Linked DNA regions of Homo sapiens: region 2 is linked to region 1. The links come from fine-mapping of genetic effects on gene expression. A gene starts in region 1. The other region holds a variant in brackets. All regions are shown on one strand. Distances are from middle to middle. Region 1 holds the start of CXCL17 (C-X-C motif chemokine ligand 17). Region 2 has its middle 7.2 kb from the start of POU2F2-AS2.

The links. PIP is the estimated chance that this variant, and not a neighbour inherited with it, causes the effect.
Region 2: its variant is the best candidate, but not a certain one, in a credible set for the expression of CXCL17 in esophagus mucosa (GTEx, PIP 0.65).

Annotation. Positions count from the first base shown.
Region 1 is chr19:42,440,552-42,445,924 of GRCh38, reverse strand. It overlaps CXCL17 (C-X-C motif chemokine ligand 17), which reads left to right and starts at 2,979. Exons shown (of 4, transcript NM_198477.3): 1 at 2,979-3,171. The coding sequence starts at 3,093. All of the region lies in intron 1 of LIPE-AS1 (LIPE antisense RNA 1), which reads right to left.
Region 2 is chr19:42,142,626-42,147,998 of GRCh38, reverse strand. It overlaps a transcript of POU2F2 not described here. Among named protein-coding and RNA genes, the nearest start is that of POU2F2-AS2, 7.2 kb to the left of the region's middle. The variant G/A (reference allele first, on the strand shown) is at 2,712.

The sequences.
Region 1 (5,373 bases):
TGTCACTGGAGAGACAAAGGTGAATCACACCTGGTCCCTGCCTCACAGAGCTCCAGGCTATGGATGAAACCCACTCAAAGTCAGACCATTACCATTCAGTGAGAAACACCGTGACAGACATCAGAAAAGGGTTTTCTTTTTAAAACAAGAAACAAAAAAGCTTTTTATAGAGACAGGGTCTCACCATGTTGCCCACACTGGTCTCAAACTCCTGGACCCAAGCCATCCTCCCACCTCAGCTTCCCAAAGTGCTGGGATTACAGGCACCCATCCAACACAGGCTTTTTGACGCATCTCACTAATCCCCTGTGAAAAATCTTCCACTCTTGGTTTCCTGGGGTCAGTTTTCTTCATTTCAAGCTCAAAGTGAAAAAGAGAATACAAATATCCCTGATGGTCCTTTGTGCGGTCACAGCTGGACCCGGTATGTCCTCCCGGTTAATCCAGGGTGCTCAGGGCTCCCATTTCACTCTGAACGTCCTCTCTCCTATCGGAGCTCACCACGTCTACACCTGCAGCAGCCAGGTAGCTGCACACTAATAGAAAATCCAGCAAGTCAGAAAACTTGATTTACTCCTGTAACTTTGAGGCTACTGACTGTGTTGTTGAACTAATCCTATAACTTCCCTGCACTTTAATTTCCATGTCTGTAAAGTGGGGCAGGTGGATTCGGTCACCCTAGGTGCCACTGTATAGTGAGAGCTCCTCAGAGACAGCAGCACACCTGATCTCAGCATCCACCATCTAGTAAATACCAGGCACACACTAGGCGCTCAAAGTCTCACTGAATGTATGTGTGAATAAATGACTATATGAGAGCCATGTGGATCATGGACAAAGTCAACAAATATTTTTGAATGTCTACCAAGTACACTGTAGAATAGGGAAATAAGTAACCCAGGCAGGGCGGTGTTTTCTCCCAAATTCCCCTTACCTCCTCCTGAGGAATGGAGGGCCTCTGTACATCAGAGAGACTCTTGACACAAATAATGTTCTTGAGATGCATCATAAGAAGTTGTGATGTTAACAAGAAAAAAGTCCATTTGTCTTGGGGGTGTTTTATATTAATAGACCTAACAGACCGGAAGCCCCCTCCAATGGGACACAGGATGCAACACCCACCCCAAGTGCATGGAGGGGAAACCAGAGGGAGCAGGACCTGGAAGAACAGAGGGGTAAAGAGACTGAGGCACGGGAGGTAGGTCTGAGGAGGAGCTCCCGGCCCCTGCGGTGGCCTGGGTGTGGACTGATGCAGAACTCAGCAGCATAAGTAAAGTGGCCGCACCAGGCTCCATTTGTACATGGGATGGTTTTTCAGTAAGATTTTCTTTCTGCTAATGGGCTACATTTTCGCACACTTTCTAATACATCAGGCCCAGTTAATGGGCTACAAAACAATCATTCCATTCAACAGTCATTTATAGAATACTCCCAAAGTGCCAGACCCTGTGTAAGTTCAAGCAATACAAAAATGAACACGAACAGCTCCTGTCCTCTAAAATCCCCATCCAATGAGCTCCAGGAGGCACCTCTCCTACAACACGCCCCTGCTCTGCACGGCCCTCCTCTCTGCCCTCCACCAACCCAAATCCTCCCCCAACTCCAGCTCAAGTTCCACCCAACCAAGTCCCTCTCAGTCCCCCTGCACTCCTGCCACTTTGAGAGATGACTGCACCCATATCTCTAGGCTTTATGAAATGGATGTCATCTCCCTGGTTTTAGAATTTTCCAGAAAGAAGCCACATCAGTGATTTGCATCAGAACAAGCTTAGGCCCACCCTGAGCCTTCAACTTGGACACAGGCTCAGTCATAGCAGTCCCTGGCCCCTGCAGTGCTTTATAAACACTGCAGTAGCAAAGTCCACAATCAACTCTGTGACAAGTCAACAGGCCGAGATAATTTGAAAACGTGGAGAAAAAAGAATGGTCAAACAAAACCAAAGGGCTTTGACTCATGCCTTTCCTCTTTCCTTCTCTCAGGGAAATAAAGTCACACCCCCTGCTCTCACTCCTGCCTGGAGGCTTCCAAAAAAAGGGCTCCCTTGTTAGCCTTCCCTTCAGCCCCCATGAATATCACCCAGCATTCAAGCCCAGCCTCTCCTCTCCCTTTGAGCACATTTCCTAAAGTCTCAAATAAATGTCAAGTTTAGTGAGTGCTGATATTCTATGCCCCTAATGTTTACTTCAAGTATTATTACCTTTCTTCTTTTGCCCGGGGCCATTTCCAAACAAGGGCTGGAGCCAGGCGCCCCAGCAGCTGGGCAAACACACTTCAGGGCTCCTTCCCTCCTGTGGCTCCTGTTTCTCAAACCCTCTGAGACCTAAAGCTCTGGGGGTCTCTTCCCCCAACCCAGTTCCCTCCCCTTTAGACCAGAACAACTAAGCCATGGCCACCTTCCCGATGGACACACAAGGAGGCCTGGTGTCACCCACTGCTCCAGGGGCGGTGTTCTCGGCAGGGGAGCTGCCTCTTGTCCCGGATCCTGCTCTGCTGCCATCTTATGTGGCTGCAGAATTGGAGGGAATTGTGAACAGAGAGAGGACAGGGCAACTTCCCAGGCAACAACACTACTATTGCCGATATTTTGCCAAGGATGGGAGCAGGAGCACAGAGGGGAAACAGACCTTGTCAAAGTCTCTTCTACCAACACTTAGTATCCACTTTCCTGCCAAATATTCAGATAGAGAGGGTCATTGAAAGGTATAAGGAAATCCAAGCAAGAAAAAAAGATTTGAGGAAGAAATCATGAGGCATTGGGGTGTGAGGAGGCGGGAAAGAGTACAGGAGAGAACTGGCACAGCTGCCAAGTTATCAGTCACCTTCTTATGTTCTTAAGAATGCTGAATTTCTTTTGTTTGACCAGTTTCACCTCCCAGATTCCCATAAAGCACATGGTCTAATCTGTTACGTAACAGCAAGACAGCGTCACCTCACCTGTTCTCGCCCTCAAATGGGAACGCTGGCCTGGGACTAAAGCATAGACCACCAGGCTGAGTATCCTGACCTGAGTCATCCCCAGGGATCAGGAGCCTCCAGCAGGGAACCTTCCATTATATTCTTCAAGCAACTTACAGCTGCACCGACAGTTGCGATGAAAGTTCTAATCTCTTCCCTCCTCCTGTTGCTGCCACTAATGCTGATGTCCATGGTCTCTAGCAGCCTGAATCCAGGTAAACAAGACTGTCTATGAAGGGGAAAACGGGGGGAGAAATGTGGCAAAACAGGCCACAGACACATCAAAATGCAGCTTCTCTTAGCTATGGGGGATGGGGCAAGTGAGCCTTTCTCAATGCCAGTTTCCTCCTTTACAAAAAAACAGCAAACTGTACTTACACCCAAACAATGTTGAGAGAGTTAAACGAGATATTGTATGTGAAAATATCTGCAACTGGCCGGGCGCGGTGGCTCACTCCTGTAATCCCAGCACTTTGGGAGGCCAAGGCAGGGCGGATTACAAGGTCAGGAGATCGAGACCATCCTGGCTAACACGGTGAAACTCCATCTCTACTAAAAATACAAAAAATTAGCCAGACCTGGTGGCACGCACCTGTAGTCCCAGCTACTCAGGAGGCTGAGGCCAGAGAATTGCTGGAACCCAGGAGGTGGAGGCTGCAGTGAGCCGAGACGGCACCACTGTACTCCAGCCTGGGTGACAGAGTGAGACTCCATCTCAAAAAAAAAAAAAAAAAAAAAAGGAAAGAAAAGAAAAGAAGATATCTGCAATTGTAGCTGATCCCCCTCACACACACGTACGTATGTATGTATATACTAGCTCAACAAAGATTTGCTCCCATGCCTTCTCCCCCAACACTTTTCCAAAAGAGTAACATAATTCTCATGGCTAAACTTAATGATGATGGTGGGAGAGTGTTGAAGGCAATGGTACCTTTATAGAAGATCAGGAAGTCCTTGCTTCTATTCTTTACAGTGCACTGGAATGCCACCAACATGTCTTAATGCTATTTACTGGTAACGTAATAAACTAGAAAAAGCCTGTCACCAGGTAGTGTCCATATTTGAAGCTTTATCCATAGCAAGCCCTGCTGTAACAGCTCACATTTTGGGAAGCCGACTTTAGCTTAGGGGTTCCAAATCTGCTCCAGCTTTCACTATAAAGTGGCCCAGCCCTGCACAGAGCAACCACGCAGAAAAGACCTGATCCCCATGTATATTTCCGCTTGTGAGCACCATCTCCCCAAAGGCCACTTTGAGGTGAAATGGCTATGTTACATACTCAGCATCAACTTGGTCCTAAAATCAGGAGGCATTCTCCCTTCTCCACCCCAATTTCCAACATCCCCTCCTTTGTAGAGAGAGTGCTCTGGAAGCTGTTAAGCCCCATAGCCCTAGGGCCTAGACCACTGTTCTGAAAGGGAAGACTTTTCCATCACTATGACAGACACCCAGGCTAGAGTCCTCTGCCTGGATTCAAAGCTGTAGCCCCAACCTGCCTTTCTAGTGTACCTCCCTCTACTCACTAAAAATACTATTTCTCCAACCAAACTAACCTGTTTGCCCTTCCCTGAACAGGTATTGTGTTTTTCCACCAGTTCAACTTTGCTCACACACCCAGCTCAAAACCACCTTCCCACAGCTTCCTTCAGTTCCTCCCACAGCCAGACATGTGGTCTCCCTCCTGAGCGCTGGCTTAGCCCTGCTGGACACTCTCTTCTTGCACTTATCATCTGCTGCCTTATATTGAGGGCCTTCATGTGCCTTTCCTGCCCCCACCCCCTGTCCTTCTAGGCTGCAAACTACTTGGTGACACAGACTGGTGCACTGTTTCCATATCCCTCACGCTATCCAGCTCAGTACTCAGCAAACATTAGCTAACTGCAAGAATGCATCCTCAGGTTGCTAAATCAAACCAGGGCTTCATAGCAGCTCTACTGACATTTGGGCTGAACAGTTCCTTGCGGTGGGGGCTGTTCTGTGTATTGTGAGATGTTCAGCAGCATCCGCGTGGCCTCTCTCCCCTACATGCCAATAGCAGCCTCCCCTCTCCCTCATCCAAACCCCTGTTATGGCAGCCAAAAATATCTCTAGACATCGCCAAATGACCCCGGAGGGGGAACCACCCTTGGTCAACAACCACTGCTCTACACCAATACTTCTCTGCATGGCCACACTTTTAGACTCACCTAGACCTTTACACTCAGCTTGGAAGTCAGGGGGACCTAGATCCTGGCTCTGCCACACACTTTGCAACCCTAGACAAGTCGCCTCACTTTTTTGAGTTTCAGTTTTATCATCTTAAAATGAAGAAAATACCACTTGTCACACACACTTGTGAAGATTAAATGATCCGCAGCGTGTCCTAGAAAGGGTTTAATAAATGGACTGAGTAGTTTCTAAGTCGCTCCTAAAGCACG
Region 2 (5,373 bases), 300 kb after region 1:
GCTCTTCCATGGACTCACCATGACACCCTGGGAAGGGGGCTTCTCCTGTCTGAGCCTTATTTCCTCCTCTGGGTCATAACTACTACCTCATAGGGGTCAGGGAAAGGGGAAATACAAAACACAATGTCACCTGATAAATGGCCATGCCCTTTCCTGTTGCTCTTCTCTCTGACTCCTGCCCATCCTCTAGGTTCCAGGTCTTTAAGCTTTTGTATTTGCAGAGGATTTTTTCCCAACGCACTGTCAATATTCATTGACTATTTGGATCCTCACCACTATCTTGTAAAGGAGGAATTATTATCTTGATTTTACAGAAGTGGAAACTGAGGCTTCGAAGACTTAAGTACTCTGCCTCAGGTGCTTGTCCCTATGCAGGATCCATTTAAGTCATTCATTCCACCTGTCTGTTGAGCACCCACTATGTGCCCAGCGTTTGTTGGGCACTAAAGATGTAGCAGGCAGCAGAACCAGCATGGTGTATTTTCATGGAGTTGACAACTAGAGAAGATGCAGATCTTTAAGTGTAAACATCAATCAAATACAAAATCAGGAACTGATAAGTCTATCCCAAAGAATAAACTAGAATAGGGAGCCAGGAGAGAGGGCAAGTTATTTAAGCCAAACCTTAAAAGACGAGTAGGATTTAATGGGGCAAAGAGCACAGGAACAGTGTTCCAGGCAGAGGGAATGGCACATGCGAAGGGCCTGGGGTTGCAAAGAGCATGGTTTAAAGAACAGAGAGGAGACAGCATGGCTTGGAGCAGGGTAGGCAAAGAGGTGAGTGATGGGGGAAGAGATGAGAGGTGTCAGCAGGGGTGAGATGACATAGGACTTTATAGGTTGGGTTAAGGTGATTGAGTTTTATTCCCAAATGCATGGGAAGCTCCTGGAGAATCTTAAGCAAGGGAGTGACACCACCTGGTTACGTTTTAGAAAGACCCCCTTTGGGGGCCAAGGGGAGACGAGACTATCTGAGACAGGCATGGAAGAAGGGACACCTTCGGGGAGGAGACCACTGAAGTCACTCAGGCCAGAGGTGGTGGTGGCCTGGACTGCAGTGGGAGGAGTGGAGGAATCAGACAGCGCTTTTGGAATTGGTGACAATATCAAGGCTCAAAGAAGTGGAGAGCAGAGAGTGAGAGTCTGACCCTTCCAAACCTGAGCTTTTCCTCTTACCAGGTCAGGTGCTACTTTTTCCCTAGGAGGCTGCAGGAAGCCTCCATGAGGCAGATGCCTGGGTTGCTTATATTTAATGTTCTCCATGTGAACCCTAAAGTGCCTGGTTGGCACTGAGAAGTTTCTTGCCAGACCGGGATCTTGCACAGATGTGAATGGGGGGGCCTTCCCTTAGGAGACTCCACAGAGGAGGTGAGCTCTGAGTAAGGTGGTGTAGGGAGCGAGTAGATTTGAAGGTGTTGGCTCCCCTCACAGCTGGTCTTTCTGTATGAGCTCGGAGAATCTGCTAGGGCCCCACAAAGTGGAGCTGGGGAGCATTGTGCAATCTGCATCCCAGAATTGTTGTGAATCAAGGTGGGCAGGTGATGTGAAGGCACTCAGTGAATGGTTCATATTGGCAGAAGGCCATAACTGGGGACGGGGATGGGAGATACATGGATGTCTCAGACAGCAAAGCCCAGGTCCAAGGCCAGTGTTTCTGCTGAGCCAATGGGACAGGGTGGGCAAGGGTTTGAGGGAGAGGAAGAGAACAGTGGATGGCAATGTGGACTTTGGAGTCCGGTTTCCTGGGTGCCAATCCTGGTTCCATCTGTGTCTCCAGCCAAGTGATTTAACTTTGCTGGGCATCAGTGTTTTCCTCTGTAAAATGGGGATGTTAACAATGCTTTTTTGTAGAGTATTGAGAAGATTCAGTGAGAAAATGCTTCTAAATATTAATAGTAGGTGGAGGGCTTCTCTTTAACTTGTCTAAAGCAGAACTCTTTTTTTTCTTTTTTTTTTTTTTTTTTTTGAGACGGAGTCTCGCTCTGTCACCCAGGCTGGAGTGCAGTGGCGCGATCTCGGCTCATTGCAAGCTCCACCTCCTGGGAAGCAGAACTCTTTTTTTTTTGAGACAGAGTCTCGCTTTGTCACCCAGGCTGGAGTGCAGTGGCGCAATCTCAGCTCACTGCAACCTCCGCCTCCCGGGTTTAAGTGATTCTTCTGCCTCAGCCTCCCGAGTAGCTGGGATTACAGGTGTGTGCCACCATGCCCAGCTAATTTTGGTATTTTTAGTAGAGACGGATTTCACTGTGTTGGTCAGGCTGGTCTCGAACTCCTGACCTCAAGCAATCCACCTGCCTTGGCCTCCCAGAGTGCTGGGATTACAGGCATGAGCCACTGCACCCAGCCTAAAGCAGAACTCTTGATTCCCTCTCCCAAGCTTTTCCAAGAGCTTGTGTCCATCTCAGTAAATGGTTGTCACAACAACAACCTAGACTTCTTCCTTGATCCCTCACTTTCCTTCAAATGTCCAGAGCTCAGAGTTTGCTTCAACGATGACAGGCACTGTGTCTCATGCGATCTGGGCTAATACAGTTCCGTTAAGTTAAACTCCTCTGAATCAATGTAGAGCACCTTCTGTAGGCAGGGCCCTCTGTGGATGCTGCTCAGGGTCCGCACAGTTCTGAGAGAGGCACAGAGAGGCTGAGTGGTTTGCTCAAAGTTGCACAGCTAGGACTCAGCAGTCTTTGCAGAGGCTGAGAGAGGCCAAGGCA[G/A]CTTCTAATTCTTGAGCCTCCTAGTGTACTAAGAACGAAGGAATACTGAAATGGATTTACAGACCTGTGCTTTTAGCAATGACAACAATAAAATGCCACGTTAACTGATATTTATAAGGTCATTTCAGGATTTATTAAAACAAAATGCATACTATCTTACTGGTGGTGTGGTCTGGCAGTGTCATTCAACTATAAAGTAAAAAATACACATTTTGTTTTAATTTCATCCCCTCAGGAATGTGACACATGGGCCAAGTGACACATAGGCCACACCTAGCCCCACAGCTGGGACTTAACTACCTATTTATGTGACTCTAAAGTTGACACCTTTTCAGCCATCCTCAGTTGCTTTTGCAGAGATGCAAGAGGCCCAGGACTTCACAGACTTTGGAGGAAGAGAAATGTGCATGGGATCAGTGTAACAGCAAGGCCTGGGGCAAGGAGAGCTGGGCTCTGGAATTGGCTTGCCCATGACTGAGTCTGGGCAAGTCCTTGCCCTCTCTGACCCGCCTTGGGGTGCTCCTCTGAAAAGGGGGTGGATAATAACAGCCCCTGCTTTAGTGAATTGTTGGGAAGATGCCAAAAGATGATGCAAAGAATACACATAACATATGCCTGCACAGAGCAGGTGCCATGTAGCTGCTCTTGTTACTTAGTAGAATAGTGGGATGGTCTAGGGGCCTGGAGCATCGAGGCTTGAGAGCTCCTCAGGAGCATGGCCAAGCTGAGCCACCCTGTGTCCCTAGCTCCTGGCACAAGGTCTGGCACAGTGGGCCCTCCCTGAAGATGTGGAACTGAATCGTGTGGAAGAGGCGCTTGCCCAGGCTGAGCAGGAGTGGAGCACCAGGGGAGGACAGGGGAACTGAGTGGAGGGCCTGGCCTTTGCCTTCTTCTCCCGCCTTGTGAGGCCAGGTGGGCACTCCCATTAGCTCCCTTTTGCAGGGTGTGGAGGTCATTGCCCCTTTGTCAGCTTCTTCAATAAATCAATACCAAGCACCTCCTGGGTTGCAGGTGCTGGAGACACAGCAGTGAAGAGGACAGACACAGGCTAGTATGATTATTATCATGGTTCTAATCTGAATGGTGAATGTGGGTTCACATTAACTCATTATTAAAAATAAGTAAAACAATAAGTGAATGGATAGAGAAAGAGGGCTCCATCCAGCCCAGTGATGGGAGTACGCTGTGAACCAAGGATTATGATTAATCCAATTTTGTGCACCTGGGATCCTTCTAAAAGACAGGATGAGACATAATGGGACACACATGCTCCCTGTGCTGGCATAAACATTCAGTTTGGGGGAAAAGAGGTAATAAACAAGCACGTGACACGAGGCTTGAAGGTGAGACAGCAAAAAGTGCTAGAAGAAAGTGCAACCTGGTAGAGGACGTAGTGATGAGAAGTGCCATGTGAGACAGGATGTCAAAAGGCCTCTCTGTGGAGGGGGTGTTTAAGTGTAATTCTGGAGTAAGTAAGGGGACGAGCCTTAGGAACACCTGGGGAAGGACTGCACTGGGCAGGAGGAAGGGCAAGAGCAAAAGTCCTGAGGCAAGAAGAAGCGCGGGCGTGGATTGCAGGAACAGAAAGGCAGACAGCTTGGAGGAAGTGAGTGAAGGGGGTGGGGAGAGAGGAGTTGAGGTGGGCAGGGGCCCTTCAGAATGAGGCATCTTGAAGCTGGCTCGCTTTGCTGGCCTTCTCTGTGGCCTCCCAGGCTTGGGTCGTTAGTACCCTGGACAGCGGCCTTGGCCCTCCTGAGCGCTTGCCGTGATGGGCACTCCCTACTGAGCACACAACTTATATTAAGTCTGTTTCTGGGCAGTGAAATGGGGATGGGGAAACAGATGATATTGCAATGATTGGCCCCTGCCCACAGGAAGCACACAGTCATTGGACAAGACGTTAATGTACAGTTTAATGAATTTTTTCTTTTTTTTTGAGGCAGAGTCTTGCTCTTTTGCCCAGGGTGGAGTGCAGCAGCTTGATCTCGGCTCACTGCAACCTCAGCCCCCAGGTTCAAGCCTTAGCCTCCTGAGTAGCTGGGATTACAAGCATGCACTACCACACCCAGCTAATTTTTTGTATTTTTAGCAGAGACAGGATTTCACCATGTTGGCCAGGCTGGTCTCAAACTCCTGGCCTCAAGTGACCCAGCCTCAGTCTCCCAAAGTGCTGAGATTACAGGTGTGAACCACCACCCCTGGCCAGTTTAATGAATCTTGATCGAGTGAACATCTGTGCATTCACCACTTGGGTGGAGATGTCAAAGGCACCCAGAAGCCCCACCCCGTGTGTCCCTTTCCAAACATACTCCTTCCTCTCTGCTGGAGGTAACTACAATTCTCACTTTTGGGATAATCATTTATTTGATTTTCTGCATGTGTATCATTTAATATGTTCTAATTTTAATTAAAAAAATGAGTACAGGCCAGGCACAGTGGCTCATGACTATAACCCCAGCATGTAGGGAGACTGAGGAGGGAGGATCGCTTGAGCCCGGGAGTTCAAGACCAGCCCATGCAACATGTTGAAATCCTGTCTCTACCAAAAAGTACAAAACTTAGCTGGGTGTGGTAGCATGTGCCTTTGGTCCCAGCTACTCAGGAGGCTGAGGTAGGAGGATTGCTTGCTGGGGGGTGGCAGTTGCAGTGAGCTGAGATTGCA